4 separate regions of the Homo sapiens genome follow, and regions 1, 3 and 4 are each linked to region 2. The links come from fine-mapping of genetic effects on gene expression. A gene starts in region 2. Each other region holds a variant in brackets. All regions are shown on one strand. Distances are between the middles of the regions. Region 1 has its middle 5.1 kb from the start of BRD3OS. Region 2 holds the start of BRD3 (bromodomain containing 3). Region 3 has its middle 13 kb from the start of BRD3OS. Region 4 overlaps BRD3 (bromodomain containing 3).

Evidence for each region. PIP is the estimated chance that this variant, and not a neighbour inherited with it, causes the effect.
Region 1: its variant is the best candidate, but not a certain one, in a credible set for the expression of BRD3 in blood mononuclear cells (TOPMed, PIP 0.89).
Region 3: its variant is the best candidate, but not a certain one, in a credible set for the expression of BRD3 in monocytes after interferon gamma (Fairfax 2014, PIP 0.70).
Region 4: its variant is the best candidate, but not a certain one, in a credible set for the expression of BRD3 in whole blood (INTERVAL, PIP 0.88).

The regions. Positions count from the first base shown.
Region 1 is chr9:134,017,842-134,022,841 of GRCh38, reverse strand. No RefSeq gene overlaps it. Among named protein-coding and RNA genes, the nearest start is that of BRD3OS, 5.1 kb to the left of the region's middle. The variant G/A (reference allele first, on the strand shown) is at 2,909.
Region 2 is chr9:134,065,299-134,070,298 of GRCh38, reverse strand. It overlaps BRD3 (bromodomain containing 3), which reads left to right and starts at 2,273. Exons shown (of 12, transcript NM_007371.4): 1 at 2,273-2,354. RefSeq lists silencers at 1,668-2,397, 2,578-2,827.
Region 3 is chr9:134,009,734-134,014,733 of GRCh38, reverse strand. No RefSeq gene overlaps it. Among named protein-coding and RNA genes, the nearest start is that of BRD3OS, 13 kb to the left of the region's middle. The variant C/G (reference allele first, on the strand shown) is at 3,116.
Region 4 is chr9:134,039,806-134,044,805 of GRCh38, reverse strand. It overlaps BRD3 (bromodomain containing 3), which reads left to right. Exons shown (of 12, transcript NM_007371.4): 8 at 2,855-3,046; 9 at 4,537-4,772. Among named protein-coding and RNA genes, the nearest start is that of BRD3OS, 17 kb to the right of the region's middle. The variant GTGTGTGTA/A (reference allele first, on the strand shown) is at 2,006.

The DNA of each region.
Region 1 (5,000 bases), 47 kb after region 2:
TAGCTAGGGTTACAGGCATGTGCCACCATGCCTGGCTCATTTTGTATTTTTAGTGGAGACAGGGTTTCACTATGTTGATCAGGCTGGTCTCAAACTCCTGACCTCGTGATCCACCCGCCTCAGACTCCCAAAGTGCTAGGATTACAGGCATAAGCCACCGCACCTGGCTGCACAAAAGGTTTTTAAGGGTGAATGAGTGCCTGCCCATCTCCTTTCCTATCTGTCCTAAAACATTTAATTAGCTGTCTTTCAGTCTTTTGGCTCTAAGTCTCTTGGCCATAGGGATCCCACCAAGGGACAAGATGGACCCAGTGCAGGTAGCACACAGCCCCAGCAACGATATAGGACAAAATAAAAGTTTGGTCATCAATGCCATCTCTGGCAAATCTTGGCCAAAAGAAGGGAATATAAACTAAAAATAAAATCCTAAACTCCTCACTGACTGAACGGATCCCCTCTTGGCCAAGGGGACCTCAGAAAAAACTTAAAACTGAGTTCCCAGCCACGATGGGATAGGAGAGCCCACTCATGTCGTTATAACTCCTCCCTTTGGTGACTTAGAGACAAGGCACTAGCATTTGCGTTAAAATATGTAAGACTGAAAACATAGAAGACTGAAAAACAGACTCTTTATGGCGATAACATACCAAATTATAAATAAGACCTGTGGCTGGGCATGGTGACTCACATCTGTAATCCCAGCACTTTGAGAGTCCAAGGCGGGCAGATCACTTGAGGCTGAGAGTTCGAGACCAGCCTGGCCAACATGGTGAACCCCCATCTCTACAAAAAATACAAAAATTAGCTGGACATAGTGGCGCATGCCTGTAATCCCAGCTACTTGGGAGGCTGAGGCAGGAAAACCACTTGAACCCAGGAGGTGGAGGTTGCAGTGAGCCAAGATGGCACAACTGCACTCCAGTCTGGGTGACAAAGTGAGACTCTGATTCCAAAAATAAATAAATTAATTAATTAATAAGATTTAGGGCCATGCCAGGCACAAGTTAAGTCCTACACCTCTACAATTAAAGAATAAACTCTATTCTCACTGCCACGAGGTTGTTCCTTTTCTCTAGCAGCTAAGTAAGTACTGACCTCAAGATAAACAATGTTAAAACGATTTGCAGCTCATCCAGCTCCAGATGCTAACTGACCCCATTCACCCACCATAACTAGCTTTCTCTTCTTTTGAAACAGCGTCTCACTCTGTCCTCCAGGCTAGAGTGCAGTGGTGCAATCCTGGCTGAGTGCAGCTTCAACCTCCCAGCCTCAAGCAATCCTCCCACCTCAGCCTCCCAAGTAGCTGGGCCTACAGGTGTGCACCACTAGGTGTACCAGTAGGTCCACCCGGGAGGTGGAGTTTGCACCCAGCTACTTTTTGTATTTTTGGTAGAGATGGGGTTTTGCCATGTTGCCTAGGCTGATCTCAAATTCCTGGGCTTAAACAATCCTCCCATCGTGGCCTCCCAAAGTGCTGGGACTACAGGTGTGAGCCACTATGCCCAGCCAACTACAGCTTTCATTGAACAAGAGACTGATTTCAGCAACTTTCTCCAGGTAAGACCACTGACTATGGATTGGTTCCGGCTGGTTCAGAGAGGCTGCATACTTGTGTGCTTTTGTGTCCTGGAAAGACCTTTTTACTATAAGGCCTAATTTTATTTTATGTATGTATATATTTTTATTTATTTGAGACGGAGTCTCCCACTATTGCCCAGGCTGGAGTGCTGTGGTGCCATCTCGGCTCACTGCAACCTCCGCCTCCTGGGTTCAAGTGATTCTCCTGCCTCAGCCTCCCAAGTAGCTAAGACTACAGGTGTGCACCACGGTGCCCAGCTAGTTTTTTTTTTATTTTTAGTAGAGACTGGGTTTCACCGTATTGGCCAGACCTCAGCCTCCCAAAGTGCTGGGATTACAGGCGCGAGCCACTGCACCCAGCCTATAAGGCCTAATTTTAGTACATTTTGATGCTAAGTCTCCACCCCAAGGTGAACATGAGTTGTATGTTACATGCATGTTTGTTCAGTATGCATGTTGTCAGGACCTTCATGAATATTCATAGCTCCTCCTATAACCTGTTGAATGTGTATGTTTAGCCAACCTGTTCAGCATGGAGCTCCTGCCCCAACCCCTCCTCCTTCAGAGGCACATTTTCCAGCCTGTGGGATGGCCACCTTGCTGGCTGTAACCCTTTATGAGAAAGAAAGTCACCCAGGCGCAGTGGCTCACACCTGTAGTCCCAGCAATTTGGGAGGCCAAGGCGGGCAGATCACTTAAACTCAGGAGTTCAAGACCAGCCTGGCCAACATGGCAAAACCCCATTTCTACAAAAAGTACCTGGGCATGGTGAAAGGCACCTATAGTCCCAGCTACCTGGGAGGCTGAGGCAGGAGGGTTGCTTGAGCCCAGGAGGCAGCGGTCGCAGCGAGTCATGATTGCATCACTGTACTCCAGCCTGGGCAACAGAGTATTTATGGATATTGTGGGGTTCTTTTTTCAATTAACAGTACAAATTCAGGAGAATCTCAGACAAATTATTAAAATTAATAAGACAGGGCTGGGCGAGGTGGCTCACACCTGTAATCCTAGCACTTTGGGAGGCTGAGGCGGGTGGATCACGAGGTCAGGAGTTGGAGACCAGCCTGGCCAACATAGTGAAACCCTGTCTCTACTAAAAATACAAAGAATTAACCAGGCGTAGTGGTGGGTGCCTGTAATCCCAGCTACTGGGGAGGCTGAGGCAGGAGAATCGCTTGAGCCCGGGAGGCGGAGGTTGCAGTGAGCTGAGATTGCGCCACTGCACTCCAGCCTGGGCAACAGAGACAGACTGCGTCTCAAAGGAAAAAAAAAAGTCTTTTTGTTCCTGTCTAGCTGCCCCACCCATTGTCTTCATGTTCCTGGAATATGT[G/A]TATAAAAAACAATGGATAGCCAATCAATAGCTTGTTATTTTAATGTAAATTTTTGGTAAACAATTCAGGAACTCCCCTTCTTTTCCTTTAAAAATCCTCTAGTAACCGCTACTAACTGGAGTGGATGTTCAGGGCAACTTGCATGCTCCGGGTTGCAGCCCTCAAGCTTGGCCCAAATAAACTCTCTACTTACATTAATTTTTCCTCAGCTTCTTCCTTTTAGGTTGCAAACCAAAAATAAAATCCTGGCCAGCCATGTTGGCTCATGCCTGTAATCCCAACATTTTGGGAGGCCAAGGCGGGTGGATTGCTTGAGCCCAGGAGTTCAAGATCAGCCTGGGCAGCATGGTAAAACCCCTTTTTAAATAAAAATACAAAAAATTAGCCAGGCATGATGGTGTGTACCTGAAGTCCCAGTTACTTGGGAGGCTAAAGTGGGAGCAATGCTTGAGCCCGAGAGGTCAAGGCTGCAGTGAGCTGTGGTTGCACCACTGTACTCCAGCCTTGGCGACAGAGTGAGACCCTATCTCAAAAAAGTTTTAAGGGCCAGGCACGGTGGCTCACGCCTGTAATCTCAGTACTTTGGGAGGCCAAGGTGGGCAGGTCACCTGAGGTCAGGAGTTTGAGACCAGCCTGACCAATATGATGAAACCCTGTCTCTACTAAAAATACAAAAATTAGCTGGGTGTGGTGGCGGGCACCTGTAATCCCAGCTACTTGGGAGGCTGGGACAGGAGAATTGCTTGAACCCGGGAGGTGGAGGTTGCAATGAGCCGAGATCACACCATTGCACTCCAGCCTGGGAGACGAGTGAAACTCCGTCTCAAAAAAAAAAAAAAAAAAAAGCTTTAAAAAAATAAATAAATAAATAAAAATCCTAAGCCCCTGGTGGACTGAACAGACCCCTTCTTGGCTAAGGGGACCCCAGAGAAACCTGAAAAACAGCATTCCTGGCCATGACAAGAAGGGAGGCTGGACATGTCTCGTTCTCCCCTCTCCCTTTTGGAGTTTAGGCACCACTGGCCAGCATCATTAAAATAGAGGTCGTGAGACTGACAAAACAGACTTTTTTTTTTTTTTTGAGACAGAGTCTCTGTTGCCAGGCTGGAGTGCAGTGGCGTGATCTCAGCTCACTGCAACCTCTGCCTCCTGGGTTCAAGCGATTCTTCTGCCTCAGCCTCCCGAGTAGCTGGGACTACAGGCGTGCGCCACCATGCCCAGATAATTTTTGTATTTTTACTAGAGATGGGGTTTCAACATGTTGGCCAGGATGGTCTCGATCTCTTGACCTCGTGATCCACCTGCCTTGGCCTCCCAAAGTACTGGGATTACAGGCGTGAGCCCCCGCGCCCTGCCAAAACAGACTCTTTATGGCAACAAGATACCAAATTCCAACCAGACCCTTGTATAGCACCACATGACAGATAGCAGACCCTGAAGGAAAGGAAAATATTTTACCTCAAAATATATTTCTTTATTTTTTTGAGATGGAGTCTCGCTCTGTCGCCCAGGCTGGAGTGCAGTGCCACGATCTTGGCTCACTGCAATCTCCACCACCAGGTTCAAGCAGTTCCCCTGCCTCAGCCTCCTGAGTAGCTGGGATTACAGGCGCCCGCCACCACGCCCAGCTAATTTTTGTATTTTTAGTACAGACGGGGTTTCACCATATTGGTCAGGCTGATCTCGAACTCCTGACTTCAGGTGATCCACTGGCTTCGGCCTCCCAAAGTGCTGGGGTTACAGACATGAGCCACCGTGCCCAGCCCCCAAATACATTTCTTTGACATATTTTGGAATGGCCCTGCAAAGCCGTCTTCTGTGGGGGAAATTTGCATCTGTAAAGAATCTCTATTAGGAGCCTGGCCTTTCCTTTCTAGGCGTTTCCCGGATTTAGGAGAAATTAAATGAGAGTCTAATACAGGTGGGTCTGATCTTTTTTTTTTTTTTTTTTTTGAGACAGAGTCTCTGTCGCCCAGGCTGGAGTGCAGTGACGTGATCTCTGCTCACTGCAAACTCTGCCTCCTGGGTTCACGCCATTCTCCTGCCTCAGCCTCCCAAGTAGCTGGGACTGCAGGCGCCCACCACCATGCC
Region 2 (5,000 bases):
GAGCCAGTGCCCAGGGAGCGCCTGGGTTCCTGCCATACTCCTGGGGGTCACCTTAGGGCAGTGGGAGGCCCATAAGGGTTGGGGGCATTTGGTCAGCAGCCTCAGACACGCTGGCTGGTCAGGGCAGCCTGCTGTGTGCATGTACCTGGGTTCCTTGAGGTCAAGACCAGGCGGAAAGGCTTTTTGTTCTAGCCTTGGGAGGAGTGCAGTGGGGTCTGTGTAAGTGGTGAGGTGGCCATCCTGGTGGTCAGAGTGCTCAAGATACCCAAGGAGATGAGATGCAGACAGCAGGAATGGGTTGCAGCCTCCAAGGTGGCTAACACAGAAGCCTGTAGGTTGAGGAACTGCACCGGGGGTTTGGGGACACAACCAGGATGGTAGTTCTAAGGGAACTGCCTGCAGATCCTCACCTCTCATATTCCCCCTCCCCGACCTTCCTGCGCCTGAGGACTGCACTTTGTCCATTTTGCCAACTAGAAAGGCAAGGCTGGAACCTCGTCCTAGAGCCTTGCCCTGGAGTGTGAGAAGGTCCTGGGCTCCCAGCAGAAACAGAGGGACAGGATTGGGAAAGGTGTTGGCTTCCCCTGCAAACTCTTCCTAAGACCCCGGGGCTTTGGGTCTCAGCCGTCCTGCAAATTGGCTCTGTGACCTTGGGCAGGACCCTTTGCCTCACTGAGCCTGTTTCCTTACCTGTCAGCCTGGAACAGAACACCTGCCTTCTGGGTGAGCATGGGGATGAATTGTCTCTGTGCTGGCACTCACTTTGTGAATATTGCATAGATGTGTGCATTTCAGGCAGTGGAGCTGCTGCTCAACTTGGAACACACCTGGGGACCCCAGGGGCTTGGGGTGGGTGCAGCCCACACAAGGAAACTCGACCTTGCAGTTGGCAGGTTCAGCAGGCACCAAGGAACCTCGTTTTGTTTTTGACGTTTTTATTGGGGTCTAATGTACACAACGTGTAACCACCTTAAGTTACAGCTGGATTAAAATTGATTTATGTGGCCGGGTGCGTTGGCTCACGCTTGTAATCCCAGCACTTTGGGAGTCCGCGGTGGGCGGATCATCTCACGTCAGGAGTTTGAGAACAGCCCAGTCAACACGGTGAAACCCCATCTCTACTAAAAAATACAAAAATTAGCCGGGCGTGGTGGCGGGTGCCTGTAATCTCAGCTACTCGGGAGGCTGAGCCAGGAGAATGGCTTGAACCCGGGAGGCGGACGTTGCAGTGAGCCGAGATCGAGCCACTCACTACACTACAGCACTCCAGCCTGGGTGACAAGAGCGAAACTAACGTCTCAAAAAAAAAAAAAAAAAACAAAAACCAAAAAAACAACAAAACCCCCCCCCCCACAACTTGATTTATGTGTAAACCCGAGTCGTCATCACCCAAAACAAGATGCAAAACGTGTCCACGGGCTGAACCTTTCAAGATACAGAAAAAGGGCCAGGGGTGGCCCTCTCCCGGAATCTCAGGCTGGGAACCTGGTATCTAGTTCCCGCCCCTCACTGGGCAGATGGGGAAACCGGGGCTTGGGGCGAGAAGGTCCCCAGGCAGAGCTGGGAGCACCCCTAACTCTTCGCCAGCTCTGGGGACTTGGCGCCCTCTCCAGCAACAGCGAACTTGGGCGCCCGCGCCCCAGCAAGTCGGGTGGGGGAGATGGTGACACGGAGGGCGCGGCAGAGCGCGGCTCCTCCCCGGGCGGGGCCGACCTGCCCGCGCGCACCGACGCCCCGCCCCCCGCCCCGCGCGCGCGCTCCCGCCAGGCTAATTAGGCGCGCGGTTTGTTTACAAACACGGGCTCCCGGCAGGTGCGCGCCGCCCCGCCCGTGCGCGGCCGGGGTTCGAGGGTGGCTCCCGCGGGCCTCGGGGTGCCCGGACGGGGGCTGCGGTGCTGGCTGCGTGCCCGCTTCTTCCATGCCGTCCTGGGGCACCGGAAAATCCGCCGCCAGGCGCTGTCCCCGACACGGGGTGAGGAGAGCCGTGCGGGCCCGGGCGGGGAACGGCCCACGGGGTCCCAGCGTTGTTGCCCTGCCGGGCGGGCGCCGAGCCCCGCCCCCGCGCGCCCCCCGGGCCAGGCCCGCTCTCGGCCGGGTCGGCGGGGCGGGCGGGGGCCCCCGGGGCGGGGCGCGGCGCCGGCGGGGCCGGGACATGTAGTCCGCGCGCCCGCGGCCTCCCCTGGGCGGCCCCGGCGCGGGCCCGGCCGCGGACTACGACTCCCGCCAGGCGCCGCGGCGCAGCGCATGAGCCCTGCTCGGCTCCGGCGCGTCTATTATGCTGCCGGGGCCGGCGAGCCAAAGAGGAGCCGGCCGCGCGGGCCGGGAGGGGACGGCCGCCGGAGCCGCGAGGCCAAGTACGCCTTTCTCTTGCTTCCTTGCGCGCGCGGGGCGGCGGGCGGCGCGGGCGGCGGCGGGCCGGGCTGGGCCGGGGAGCGCGGCCCCGAGCGCCCCGCGCAGTCCGCCGGCGCGTCCGGGTGAACCGGGCGCCCGGGGCCGCCGCCGCCGCCGCCGCCTTTGTGCGCGGCCACGATGCAACAAAGCGCGGCGGCCGCCCGGGGTCGCGGCGGCGGTGGCGGCGGCGGTGGCGCGGGCTCCGCTCCCCTCCTCCCGCTCCCGCTTGGCCGCCTCCGTCCCGGACTCGGGGCGTCGCTGCGGCCGGGGCGCGCAGCCCGGAGTTGGCGCGGCCCGCGCGCCCCGCGCCAGCCCGGCCTCCGCGCGCCCTCCCTCACGGAAGGGATTTTTTTCCCCCTTTCCTCCGCCCGCCATCTTTCGAAGGGGGAACCCAGGGAGGACGCGGAGGGGGAAGGTGCGCGCGGCGGCCCCGGCCTGCGGCCGTGCGCTCCGCGGGGCCACTTTCCCCGCGCCTGTTCCGCCGGCCTCGCTCCCGAGCCGTTGCTGGGGCCCGCGCCTGGGGACCGTCGCCGCGCGCCGCGGCCGGGGCGGGGGGCAAGGCCGGGCTCGGCCCTGGGCTCTGCGCGGCCTCCTCCCAGAGTTACGGGCCCAGAGCTGACTTTGAGCCCCCCTGAGTTGCCGGATTATTGCACCCAAACCAGGGGGAGACCCAGTTCCCGTTTTGAAATCAGCCTGAAAATCGCTTAATCCGGGCGAGGGCGAGTTGGAGCGGGAGGGACGGGGGTGCTTCCCCTCCTTCCCACTTTTGGGGGGCGCCGGAGTGACAACGTGATACAAGCCCATCCGGGGAGAAATGCGCACCCCGAACCGTGTACACCCACATGGCCCTGGTGGGCTCTCTGTGAATAAAGCTGGGGCGTGCGGGAAGTCTTATTCCACCGGTTGCTCGTTCGGGGGCAGGGCCGGGATGGGGGCTTCGCGCGGCCTCCTTTCCCTGGAGGGCGAGAACTCGGCCCGCCGAGACCCACCGGGGGCAGGGACCCGGCGTCCATCGTGTGGGTTCCTCCGTTCGACCCAATCCTTGAGTGGTTGCGATCTTTAATTTTGGTTGAAAGCTTTCTGCTCAGAAATAGATACTGGGATTTCTCCCCCTTACATTAAACTTGGTCATTGTCTGCAAAAGTTAACCAGGAGGGGAGACTGTAGTGCATTGGTGGGCAGAGTAATTGGGCTGGAACTGCAAGAGGCAGCTTCGTGTGTCCCGTCCTCCCCCGCCCTACCCTGTGAGAAGGAACAGAAGAGGAAAAGAGTTTTCTTTTTACCCTGCTCTTTTGTAGGCTTTTCCCCTTACTCTTTTCTTTAAAATGGAGGGTTTTTTTTTTTTCCTGGGTCCATGTAGTATGCCTGGGGAGATCCTGGAATCTATGCAAAGTTGTATGGCATTTTTCTGGGGAAAGTAGTTTGTTACTGGCTTCCAACGGGGTCTAAGGAAGGTCTGAACCCCTGCAAGGGGCTGGCCTCGGGGGTTAGGGAGCCCTCCCTCCGGGTTCTTCCCTGGCAGCCCTGATGCAGCCTCTCATTTGCAAATAAAGGTCTGTGTTTGCCGTTTTCTCTGTTGAGGCCTTGATGGGTGCTGGTGGTTACTGATCATGAAAGATAAGGCACACGCTGTAACAGGACGGGCTGCAGGCGAGCGAGGGGCATTTCTTTCTGACCTTCCGGGTAGCCTCAGAGGCCCGGTGCCTCAGCAGGGCACCGGGTGCCTGGAAAGACTGTGGGAGCAGCTCCAGCCTGAGCCCTGCCGTTGGGACATCCGGGGAGGAGGGATTTCAAAAGCTTTCTCCGAGTGGGCAGTCACTCCATTTTTATTTTTGTTTTGTTTTTAGAAAGTAGAGTAATTACTTTCCTTTGACAACAGCTCGCGCCTGCTTCGGAAGTGAGTGAGCTTTGAATGAAGGACGGGACTTGCAAACAGTGCCTGCCCTACACTCCGAAGTAGTCATACCCAGAAAGTGAAAGTGGGGGTGTGCAGAGCGAAGCAGCCAGGCCTGCTGCAGCCGGTGCTACCTTCCTCTACCCTCTTCCTCCAGGCTCTGGAGATGCCAGCCGCGGGAGCCCTGTGCACCAGGCGGCAGTGATGGCCTTGTGCGATTCCTGGTGCCACCAGGAAGTGCCACCACTTTCCCTGAGGCATGGTGGCTCAGGGTTTCCCAAGTGGGGTGATTGGCACAAAACCAACAGCTATGCCCAGTTGTCGATGGGAAGAGCCATGTTTTGCTGTGGATACACACGGTACCGGGGCGGGGTATGGGGAACCGGGGCCTACTCTTCCCAGCGTTGCTGCCTGGGAGGTGGGGGCATGCCTGAAGTCGTGCTGCGGGTCTCTTGGTTTTCAAAGCAGTTAACGCAGTTGGTCAGAGGATCCTCCTCTTGCTTCCTTGACCGGTCATCAAAGTATAACTGACCTGACGGGGTTCCTGTCCTAGGCAGGTTCCTTTTTTTTTTTTTTTCTCTTCTCCTCTTGAGATGGAGTCTCGCATTGTTGCCCAGGCTGGAGTGCAGTGGCACGATCTCAGCCCACTGTAACCTCTACCTCCCGGGTTCTAGCAATTCTCCTGCTTCAGCCTCCCAAGTAGCTGGGATTACAG
Region 3 (5,000 bases), 56 kb after region 2:
CCATCTTAATTGAAAAAAAAAAAGGAATAGCTAGATACAAACATACACATACTTAATAGGCAAGGGAATCTACGGAGTTGATACAAGCCTTGTTCCTGCAACCAGTCCCGAGGCCGCAGTGTTTCACAGTCCCGAGGCCGCAGTGTATCACAGTCCCGAGGCCACAGTGTATCACAGTCCCGAGGCCGCAGTGTATCACAGTCCCGAGGCCGCAGTGTTTCACAGTCCCGAGGCCGCAGTGTATCACAGTCCCGAGGCCGCAGTGTATCACAGTCCCGAGGCCGCAGTGTTTCACAGTCCCGAGGCCGCAGTGTATCACAGTCCCGAGGCCGCAGTGTTTCACAGTCCCGAGGCCGCAGTGTTTCACAGTCCCGAGGCCGCAGTGTATCGCAGTCCCGAGGCCGCAGTGTTTCGCAGTCCCGAGGCCGCAGTGTATCGCAGTCCCGAGGCCGCAGTGTTTCGCAGTCCCGAGGCCGCAGTGTATCGCAGTCCCGAGGCCGCAGTGTTTCGCAGTCCCGAGGCCGCAGTGTATCGCAGTCCCGAGGCCGCAGTGTATCGCAGTCCCGAGGCCGCAGTGTTTCACAGTCCCGAGGCCGCAGTGTTTCACTGTCCCGAGGCCGCAGTGTATCGCAGTCCCGAGGCCGCAGTGTATCGCAGTCCCGAGGCCGCAGTGTTTCACTGTCCCGAGGCCGCAGTGTATCACAGTCCCGAGGCCGCAGTGTATCACAGTCCCGAGGCCTCGGTGTTTCACAGTCCCGGGGCCGCGGTGTTTCACAGTCCCGGGGCCGCGGTGTATCACAGTCCCGGGGCCGCGGTGTATCACAGTCCCGGGGCCGCGGTGTATCACAGTCCCGGGGCCGCGGTGTTTCACAGTCCCGGGGCCGCGGTGTTTCACAGTCCCGGGGCCGCGGTGTTTCACAGTCCCGGGGCCGCGGTGTTTCACAGTCCCGGGGCCGCGGTGTATCACAGTCCCGGGGCCGCGGTGTATCACAGTCCCGGGGCCGCGGTGTTTCGCAGTCCCGGGGCCGCGGTGTTTCGCAGTCCCGGGGCCGCGGTGTATCGCAGTCCCGAGGCCGCGGTGTTTCGCAGTCCCGAGGCCGCAGTGTATCGCAGTCCCGAGGCCGCAGTGTATCGCAGTCCCGAGGCCGCAGTGTTTCACTGTCCCGAGGCCGCAGTGTATCACAGTCCCGAGGCCGCAGTGTATCACAGTCCCGAGGCCTCGGTGTTTCACAGTCCCGGGGCCGCGGTGTTTCACAGTCCCGGGGCCGCGGTGTATCACAGTCCCGGGGCCGCGGTGTTTCACAGTCCCGGGGCCGCGGTGTATCACAGTCCCGGGGCCGCGGTGTATCACAGTCCCGGGGCCGCGGTGTTTCACAGTCCCGGGGCCGCGGTGTATCACAGTCCCGGGGCCGCGGTGTTTCACAGTCCCGGGGCCGCGGTGTATCACAGTCCCGGGGCCGCGGTGTTTCACAGTCCCGGGGCCGCGGTGTATCGCAGTCCCGGGGCCGCGGTGTTTCGCAGTCCCGGGGCCGCGGTGTATCGCAGTCCCGGGGCCGCGGTGTTTCGCAGTCCCGGGGCCGCGGTGTATCGCAGTCCCGGGGCCGCGGTGTTTCGCAGTCCCGGGGCCGCGGTGTATCGCAGTCCCGGGGCCGCGGTGTATCGCAGTCCCGGGGCCGCGGTGTATCGCAGTCCCGGGGCCGCGGTGTATCGCAGTCCCGGGGCCGCGGTGTATCGCAGTCCCGGGGCCGCGGTGTATCGCAGTCCCGGGGCCGCGGTGTATCGCAGTCCCGGGGCCGCGGTGTTTCGCAGTCCCGGGGCCGCGGTGTATCGCAGTCCCGGGGCCGCGGTGTTTCGCAGTCCCGGGGCCGCGGTGTATCGCAGTCCCGGGGCCGCGGTGTATCGCAGTCCCGGGGCCGCGGTGTATCGCAGTCCCGGGGCCGCGGTGTTTCGCAGTCCCGGGGCCGCGGTGTATCGCAGTCCCGGGGCCGCGGTGTATCGCAGTCCCGGGGCCGCGGTGTATCGCAGTCCCGGGGCCGCGGTGTATCGCAGTCGCGGGGCCGCGGTGTATCGCAGTCGCGGGGCCGCGGTGTATCGCAGTCGCGGGGCCGCGGTGTATCGCAGTCCCGGGGCCGCGGTGTATCGCAGTCGCGAGGCCGCGGTGTTTCGCAGTCCCGAGGCCGCGGTGTATCGCAGTCCCGAGGCCGCGGTGTATCGCAGTCCCGAGGCCGCGGTGTTTCACTGTCCCGAGGCCGCGGTGTATCACAGTCCCGAGGCCGCGGTGTATCACAGTCCCGAGGCCTCGGTGTTTCACAGTCCCGAGGCCGCGGTGTATCACAGTCCCGAGGCCGCGGTGTTTCACAGTCCCGGGGCCGCGGTGTTTCACAGTCCCGGGGCCGCGGTGTTTCACAGTCCCGGGGCCGCGGTGTATCGCAGTCCCGGGGCCGCGGTGTATCGCAGTCCCGGGGCCGCGGTGTATCGCAGTCCCGGGGCCGCGGTGTATCGCAGTCCCGGGGCCGCGGTGTATCGCAGTCCCGGGGCCGCGGTGTATCGCAGTCCCGGGGCCGCGGTGTTTCGCAGTCCCGGGGCCGCGGTGTTTCGCAGTCCCGGGGCCGCGGTGTATCGCAGTCCCGGGGCCGCGGTGTTTCGCAGTCCCGGGGCCGCGGTGTATCGCAGTCCCGGGGCCGCGGTGTTTCGCAGTCCCGGGGCCGCGGTGTATCGCAGTCCCGGGGCCGCGGTGTTTCGCAGTCCCGGGGCCGCGGTGTATCGCAGTCCCGGGGCCGCGGTGTTTCGCAGTCCCGGGGCCGCGGTGTTTCGCTGTCCGGAGGCCGCGGTGTATCACAGTCCCGAGGCCACAGTGTATCCCGCAGTGGGCATTTCCAGGGTTCCTCCACCAGCCAGCAGCATCTCATCTGCTTGGGGTTCTTTAGCCAGCAGGCTGACTTATGCTTTCGCTCCCCAGGGGCATGAACCCGAGATTACCCTGCCCTTTATATGTTTATGTTCATGTTGCTATAGCTTTCTATTAGCCTCTACTGTTGGGTAGAAATACTAAAACGCACCTCAGAAAATCCCCTGGGCTCCCACATACACTGAGCCTCAGTGTAGAGCCATGACT[C/G]ACTTTCTACTTGGCATTAGGCATCAATCATCCCAGCTGGTAAAGTCACGTGCTTCTTGGTTTTGTTTTGTTTTTGAGACAGGGTCTTGCTTTGATGCCCAGGCTGGAGTACAGTGGTTCAATCATGACTCACTGCAGCTTCCACCTCCTGGGTTCAGACGATCCTCCTGCCTCAGCCTCCCTAGTAGCTGGGACTGCAGGCATGCGCCACCATGCCCAGCTAATTTTGTATTTAATTTTGTTTTTGTAGATACAGGGTTTTTCCATGTTGCCCAGGCTGGTCTCGAACTCCTTGACTCAAGCAATCTTCCTGCCTTGGCCTCCCAAAGTGTTGGGATTATAGGCGTGAGCCACCGTGCCTGGCCCTGCTTCTCGGTGTTTTGATGCAGTGGAATGAGGACACCAAATTGCCAAGTGGTAGTCTCATTTTCCAAATCAGAGGAACCATCATTGAATTCCTTGGTCGAAACATTCCTTGCTTGAGAACCAAGACTTCTGAGCCATCAGAGCCCGCCACTGTGGGTGGGCAGGCTGCCAAGTTAAAGGCTTATCAGAAGTACCAGTCACAGGAGCCACTGCCCTTCTGAGCCCTGGTTCCTGGACACATGTCGTCCAGCTGCTGGGAAGACAGCGTGATCTGTTTGTCTCTGGTTCAAAGCATACACTTTAATCTGCAGATGAGGCCCTCGAACTTCCATGATGGCGTTTTTCCAGAGGTGCCGTCACTGTCCTCACTTGGTAACAGCACGCTAACCACGTGGCCTGTCCATTCCTTTTATCAGGCGGCACTTCGGGAAAGGGGCCTGTAGTCAGTCCGGTAACTTCTTTTGCTCAGGAGTGAGTTTCTTGCTTGGAAGCCATGTTGTGCGGGACACCATGGCAGCTGGCAAAGCATCTTGGCATGGATGACAGGGCTGGCAGAAGGACTGTGTGCAGGAAAAGCAACCGTGTCTATTCCAATGAGGCCGAGCCCCCTTCTCCTCCATGGGGAACGAAGTCCAATGGCATCAACCTGCTGCCACTTGGCTGGCTGCTTCCCCAGGTGATGGTGTCCTACTGGGAGCTCAGGGCCAGGTTCTTTTTTTTTTTTTTTAATCAGCAGGTCAGGTGCCCAGCAGTGGCAGTGCACAGGTCAGCTCTGGAGGGGGAGGTCCATGCTGCCGTCCATGCCCAGCCTCCACCCTTCCCCCACTCCACACTTGGAGCCCATCAAACATGCACGGGAGAGCTGGGAAAAGAGGCTGATGATGCCTGCAGAGGGGGCAGCTGTGGAGATCTGAGCACCGAGAGCCCCTCTGAAGCGAACAGACCTCAGAGACACCCGCCCGGCACAGCTATCCCCACAGCTGTCCATCTGGTACTTGGTCCCAGAACTCCCAGACACCTTGCTCCCAATCCATTCATTTCCAAGTCCTTAACCATCCTAACCATCCAGCCAGACATTCACAACTGCTCAGGAGTCAGTGTGGATGCATGTATGCAATACTATCCAGGGATTAGGAAGAAGTGAAGGGCTGGAACATGGCGGTAAACCTGAGAACAGTGTACACAAAGTACACGGATTATATGACTCCCTTTCTGTGAACTGTCTGGAGCAGGCACATTCGGAGAGACAGCCAGTGGATTTGCGGTTGCCAGAGGCTGGGGTTGGGTGGGGTGGGCTGGAGAGTCATGGCTAATAGGAACGGGGTTTCTTTTAGAGAGATGAAAATTTTCTAAACTTCAGTTGGGTGATGGTTGCACAGGTCTGTGAATATACTAGGAAGCTTTGAATTATACACTTTAAATAAAGGAATCTTATGGTATGTGAATTATATCTCAATAACGCAGTTTTTGGGGTTTTTTTTTTTTGTTTTGAGTTTCGCCTTTGTTGCCCAGGTTGGAG
Region 4 (5,000 bases), 25 kb after region 2:
ATGTCTTCAGGGAAAACAGGAGTGTCTTGGTCTAGCTCTCAGCGCAGGGACTTTGTGAACATGCACAAACCTCACAGAGATATTTGTGTGTGTGTGTGGACGTGTGTGCGTGTGTGTGCTCCTGCCTGCGTGTGCATTTTTCTGCCAAAGTCCAGGTCCCGCACACATATTTTGGTGTGGGTGGATGTGCCAGAATCTATTCTTACCTTCTCTAATTGTGATCGCAGGTGGTTTGCTTTTATAAATAACAGCACCACTGTTATAAATGTTAATCAAAGGACTTGATTTTTGGAGGAAAGGGGAGAATTATGGGTATGTGTTCTCTTCCAGCATGCTTTTCCTTTTCACGGGACCCAGAATGTCATGTTAAGATGTTCTCAGTCCTTGCATAGACTGTTTTGAAATCCCCGAGCAGCCCATGGTATTATTGTGGATGACACAGGACCCATAAAAGGGGCAGAGAGAGAAACTCGTTCCCCCTGTGGGTCCTGCTGCCTTTCCCACCCTCTCGCGCACAGGGCCTACCCAAGGTCCTCTCCCAGGCACTGCTGCCATTGCCACCCTCTCTGTGCACTGGGTCCTGTGGGTGATGATGGCAGGGTGGTCCTGGAGGTCCCACTACATCCAGAGGAAGCCGTCAGAACCCTGGTTTTATACTGAGACCTCGCTTACTGTGTCTTGAACCCAAAAGACCTTGCAAAGGCCAGTCCTCTGGAGCCTGGTAAATACTGGGTTGAGTTTAACGAGGGAGCTGAGCATAGAGGACGGAAACCCAGGCTTGCAGACCGAGCAGGGAAGCTGGCAGCTCTGCCCCTGCTCCTGAAACAGGTGCTGTTGGATAGACATGGTGCTCACGCCTGTAATTCCAGCACTTTGGGAGGCGGAGGTGGGAGGATCACTTGAGGCCAAGAGTTTGAGACGAGCTGTCTCTACAACAGATTTTAAAAACGAGTCAGGTGTGGTGGTGTGTCCCTGTAGTACCAGCTATTCAGGAAAGTGAGATGGGAGGATCACCTGAGCCCGGGCGTTGGAGACTGCAGTGAGCTGTGGTTGCACAGCACTCCAGCCTGGGCAACAGAGGAGACCCTGAGGCTGATGGATTTCCATGACTGAGCACTATTTAGCAATTGTGCAATTTTATCAGTTGAGCTGTGGGGTTAGAGCCCAACAGCAAAACGACCTGACCTGCATGGCCTTCAAGGCTGTCGGCCGAGCGGGGGCCTGGACCGCTGCTCTGTGGGTTGGGTTGCCTCTGGGGACATCTCCTGAGAGGAGAGCCTGGGATATGAGAGCCTGGGGTGGGCTTCTCCAGAGCTGGGTCCAGCCTGAACAGTGAAGGCATGTCACGTGAGCAGACGGTGTGGATTCAGGTTTCTGAGCTTGGCAAAAAGAAATCTCCCCTCATTTCCACATCACTGTGCCTCCCTGTCTTCAGTGAGCCTGGGCTGCCCCAGGGAGGGGGATGTTTGCTGAGAGGGGTGACGGAGGGCCTAGGTCCTGGTCCAAAGGCTTTCCAAAGTCAATTTTGATAGGAAGTCTGGGTGTGGTGGCTTACCCCTGTAATCTCAGCACTTTGGGAGGCCAGGGTGGGAGGATCACTTGAGCTCAGGGGTTCAAGACCAGCCTGGGCAACAGAGCAGGACCCTGTCCCTACAAAAAATAAAGTAGGCCGGGCGTGGTGGCTCACATCTATAATCCCAGCACTTTAGGAGGCCAAGGCAGGCAGATCACGAGGTCAGGAGTTCAAGAACAGCCTGGCCAACATGGTGAAACTTCGGCTCTACTAAAAATACAAAAAGTTAGCCGGGAGTAGTGGCGCATGCCTGTGATCCCAGCTACTCAGGAGGCTGAGGCAGGAGAATCACTTGAAATCAGGATGTGGAGGATGCAGTGAGCTGAGATCATGCCATTGCACTCCAGCCTGGGCAAAAGAGCAAGACTCTGTCTTGAGAGAAAAAGAAAATTAGTAAAAGTAAAACTTAAAAATGTGTGTGTGTGTGTGTGT[GTGTGTGTA/A]TATTTGTGTATATATATGTGTGTGTGTATATATGTGTATATATGTGTATATATGTGTGTATATATATGTGTATATATGTGTATATATATGTGTGTGTATATGTGTGTGTGTGTATATATATGTGTGTGTGTGTGTGTGTGTGTGTATATATATTTGAGGCAGGGTCTCACTCTGTCACCCAGGCTGGAGTGCAGTGGCATGATTTCGGCTCACTGCAGCCTCGACCTCCTGGGTTCAAGCAATCCACCCATCGCAGCCTCCCGAGCAGCTAGGATCACAGACATGTGCTGCCATGACTGGCTAATTTTTATATTTTTTTGTAAATAAAGTATGGATAGGACTAGACTTTGGCCTTTTAAGCCAACTTTTGGAGTTCACCGTTCATGAGATGTGATGCTGCAGTCAGTTCCGGGGTGAAGAGATGGGAAGAGGTCAACACTCTTGGACTCCTGTGGCTGTGGAGGACCCTGTCCAAGCTCAAGGGAAGACACTGTTTCCCGTTTCACAGCAGAGGCAGCCCCAGGGAGCTTTGGGCCAGGAGGCTACAAGGATGCATGCATCTTCTAGAGAGGGCTCATGGAGTTGCTGAAGGGAGCTGTGGGCCAGCTCCTGTGTCCCCTCTTCCCAGGCCTGTCCGCAGGAATTGCCTGGGGAGGGAGGGTGGGCAAGCTGGAAGCAACCACAGCCCCCCAGGCAGGCGGGACCCTGTCTCCTCCTAGCCCCACCTTCGTAACAGCTGTGGGTGCTGCCTCAGGGGCACCTCAGAAACCCTGAGGGCCCACACCAAGGGGCAGCCCCATGGGCACCCATGTCTTCAGGGCAGCCTCTGTTCTGCCGCAGGACGTGTTTGAGATGAGGTTTGCCAAGATGCCAGATGAGCCCGTGGAGGCACCGGCGCTGCCTGCCCCCGCGGCCCCCATGGTGAGCAAGGGCGCTGAGAGCAGCCGTAGCAGTGAGGAGAGCTCTTCGGACTCAGGCAGCTCGGACTCGGAGGAGGAGCGGGCCACCAGGCTGGCGGAGCTGCAGGAGCAGGTGGGCACTGGCATGCTTGGGTGGGGTTCAGGGGCTGAGGCGGGATTGCTGGCACAGCAGCCCAAGGTCCGTCCCTTTGCATGGTTCCTTCCTCTGCCCCTGTCCCTCAGCAGCCGCGGTAGTGCTTCCCCGTAAAGACACTCGGAGTGCCCTCCCCAGGTCTGGGGTGGTGCGAGCCTAACCCACAGCACACGTGGGTGGCTGCGGGGACACGTGGCTGGGATGTTTCTGGAGACCTGGCGGGCCTCAGGTGGGAGCTCAGGGGTCATGTGTGGTTATGTGTGCCTTGCTCTGCTCCAGAAAGGCCTGTGAGGCACTTGCAGAGGCCACAGTAGTGCCTGGGCTCCAAGCAGTCACTTGCAGTGGGGTGGGGTGCAGGCTCCAGGGTCCTGAGGGCCCTGCCGTGCAGCTGCCCAGCCCCAGTCCCGCTGCCAGGCTGTGCTTCCTCCCCCTTCTCTGCTTTCCTCGTTTGCAGTATGGGACAAATGTCACCCACTCTGAGCTGTCTTGAGGTCAGATTGAGAAAGATGTGAATTGTTTCCCCAGACCTCTGGCAGCCAGCCAGATGCATGATTTCTGGGACCCCAGATTGGGAGAAAATAGAGCAGGGCTGTCGAGTCAGGAGGGGAACAGCATGAATCAGGGCTGCAAGGACAGCGATGGCCCTGCAGTCCCCAGAGTTGGGCTGGACATTTGATTTTGAAGTGGCAAGGACACACAGCAGGGAAGACGGCTGTGAGGTGGCAGCTCCTCCACCCGCCCTCTGTCTTCCTTGCACAGACCACCCAGAGGCAGGGACAGGCCGTGGACTCACATGGGCAGTGCCTCTCAAGGGGCCTCTCCCATGGAGGTGGCTGCAGTGGGGAGGGCGAGGCGCTTGGCACAATGCCAGCTGCAGGGAGGCCCTGGATTAATGCTGGTTGCTGGCAGTGGATTGTTTTAACCCCGGAGTCCTGCGTGTTATCAAATGGCTTCCCAGAAATCACTGATGAAAATCTCCTTTGTGTGGGCATTTAAACTTCTAGAGAGTCCTTCCTTATCTGAACAATGGTAATAATAAAAATGTTAGCTGCCCACCTAATGTAGATGACGGGTTGATGGGTGCAGCAAACTACCGTGGCACATGTATACCTATGTAACAAACCTGCACATTCTGCACATGTATCCCCGAACTTAAAGTATAATACATTTTTTTTAAAAAGTTAGCTGCCCTCACCGAGTCCCTGTTGTGCCACCCGCGCAGTGCTGAGCCTGTGGCCAGGCAGCTCTTCCCCACTGCAGGCGAAGAAGCCGAGGCGGAGAGGGCTCATGACTCACTGGGGGTCACGGGAGTGAGGGGCAGAGCAGGGCCCAGGTGCTCCTGGTTCACCTCCTCACCCAGCTGAGGCAGCTCCGACATCGCCCCAAGCCCCCTCCAATCCCAGGGCGCCACGCAGCCCCAGTGGTGTGGGCCGTGCCCAGCACCTGCTCAGCCGCCCGCTCTTTTCCAGCTGAAGGCCGTGCACGAGCAGCTGGCCGCCCTGTCTCAGGCCCCAGTAAACAAACCAAAGAAGAAGAAGGAGAAGAAGGAGAAGGAGAAGAAGAAGAAGGACAAGGAGAAGGAGAAGGAGAAGCACAAAGTGAAGGCCGAGGAAGAGAAGAAGGCCAAGGTGGCTCCGCCTGCCAAGCAGGCTCAGCAGAAGAAGGCTCCTGCCAAGAAGGCCAACAGCACGACCACGGCCGGCAGGTGGGCTCCAGACCTGCTCGGGCTCCAAGAGCCCAGCGCTCAGCACGCCATGGGGGCTCATGTAGCAGCAGTGCTGGGATTGGGGGCTTTGTGCCTTGGCCACCTGGAAACCAGGGTGATGGGGGCAGGGAGACAGAGGGCCTGATGAGACCTGTGCTGGGAAGTCCGGGGGCCCAGGTGATGCTGCTCAGTTGTCTGCGGGGCTGGCCTGGATTCTGGGCATTGAAG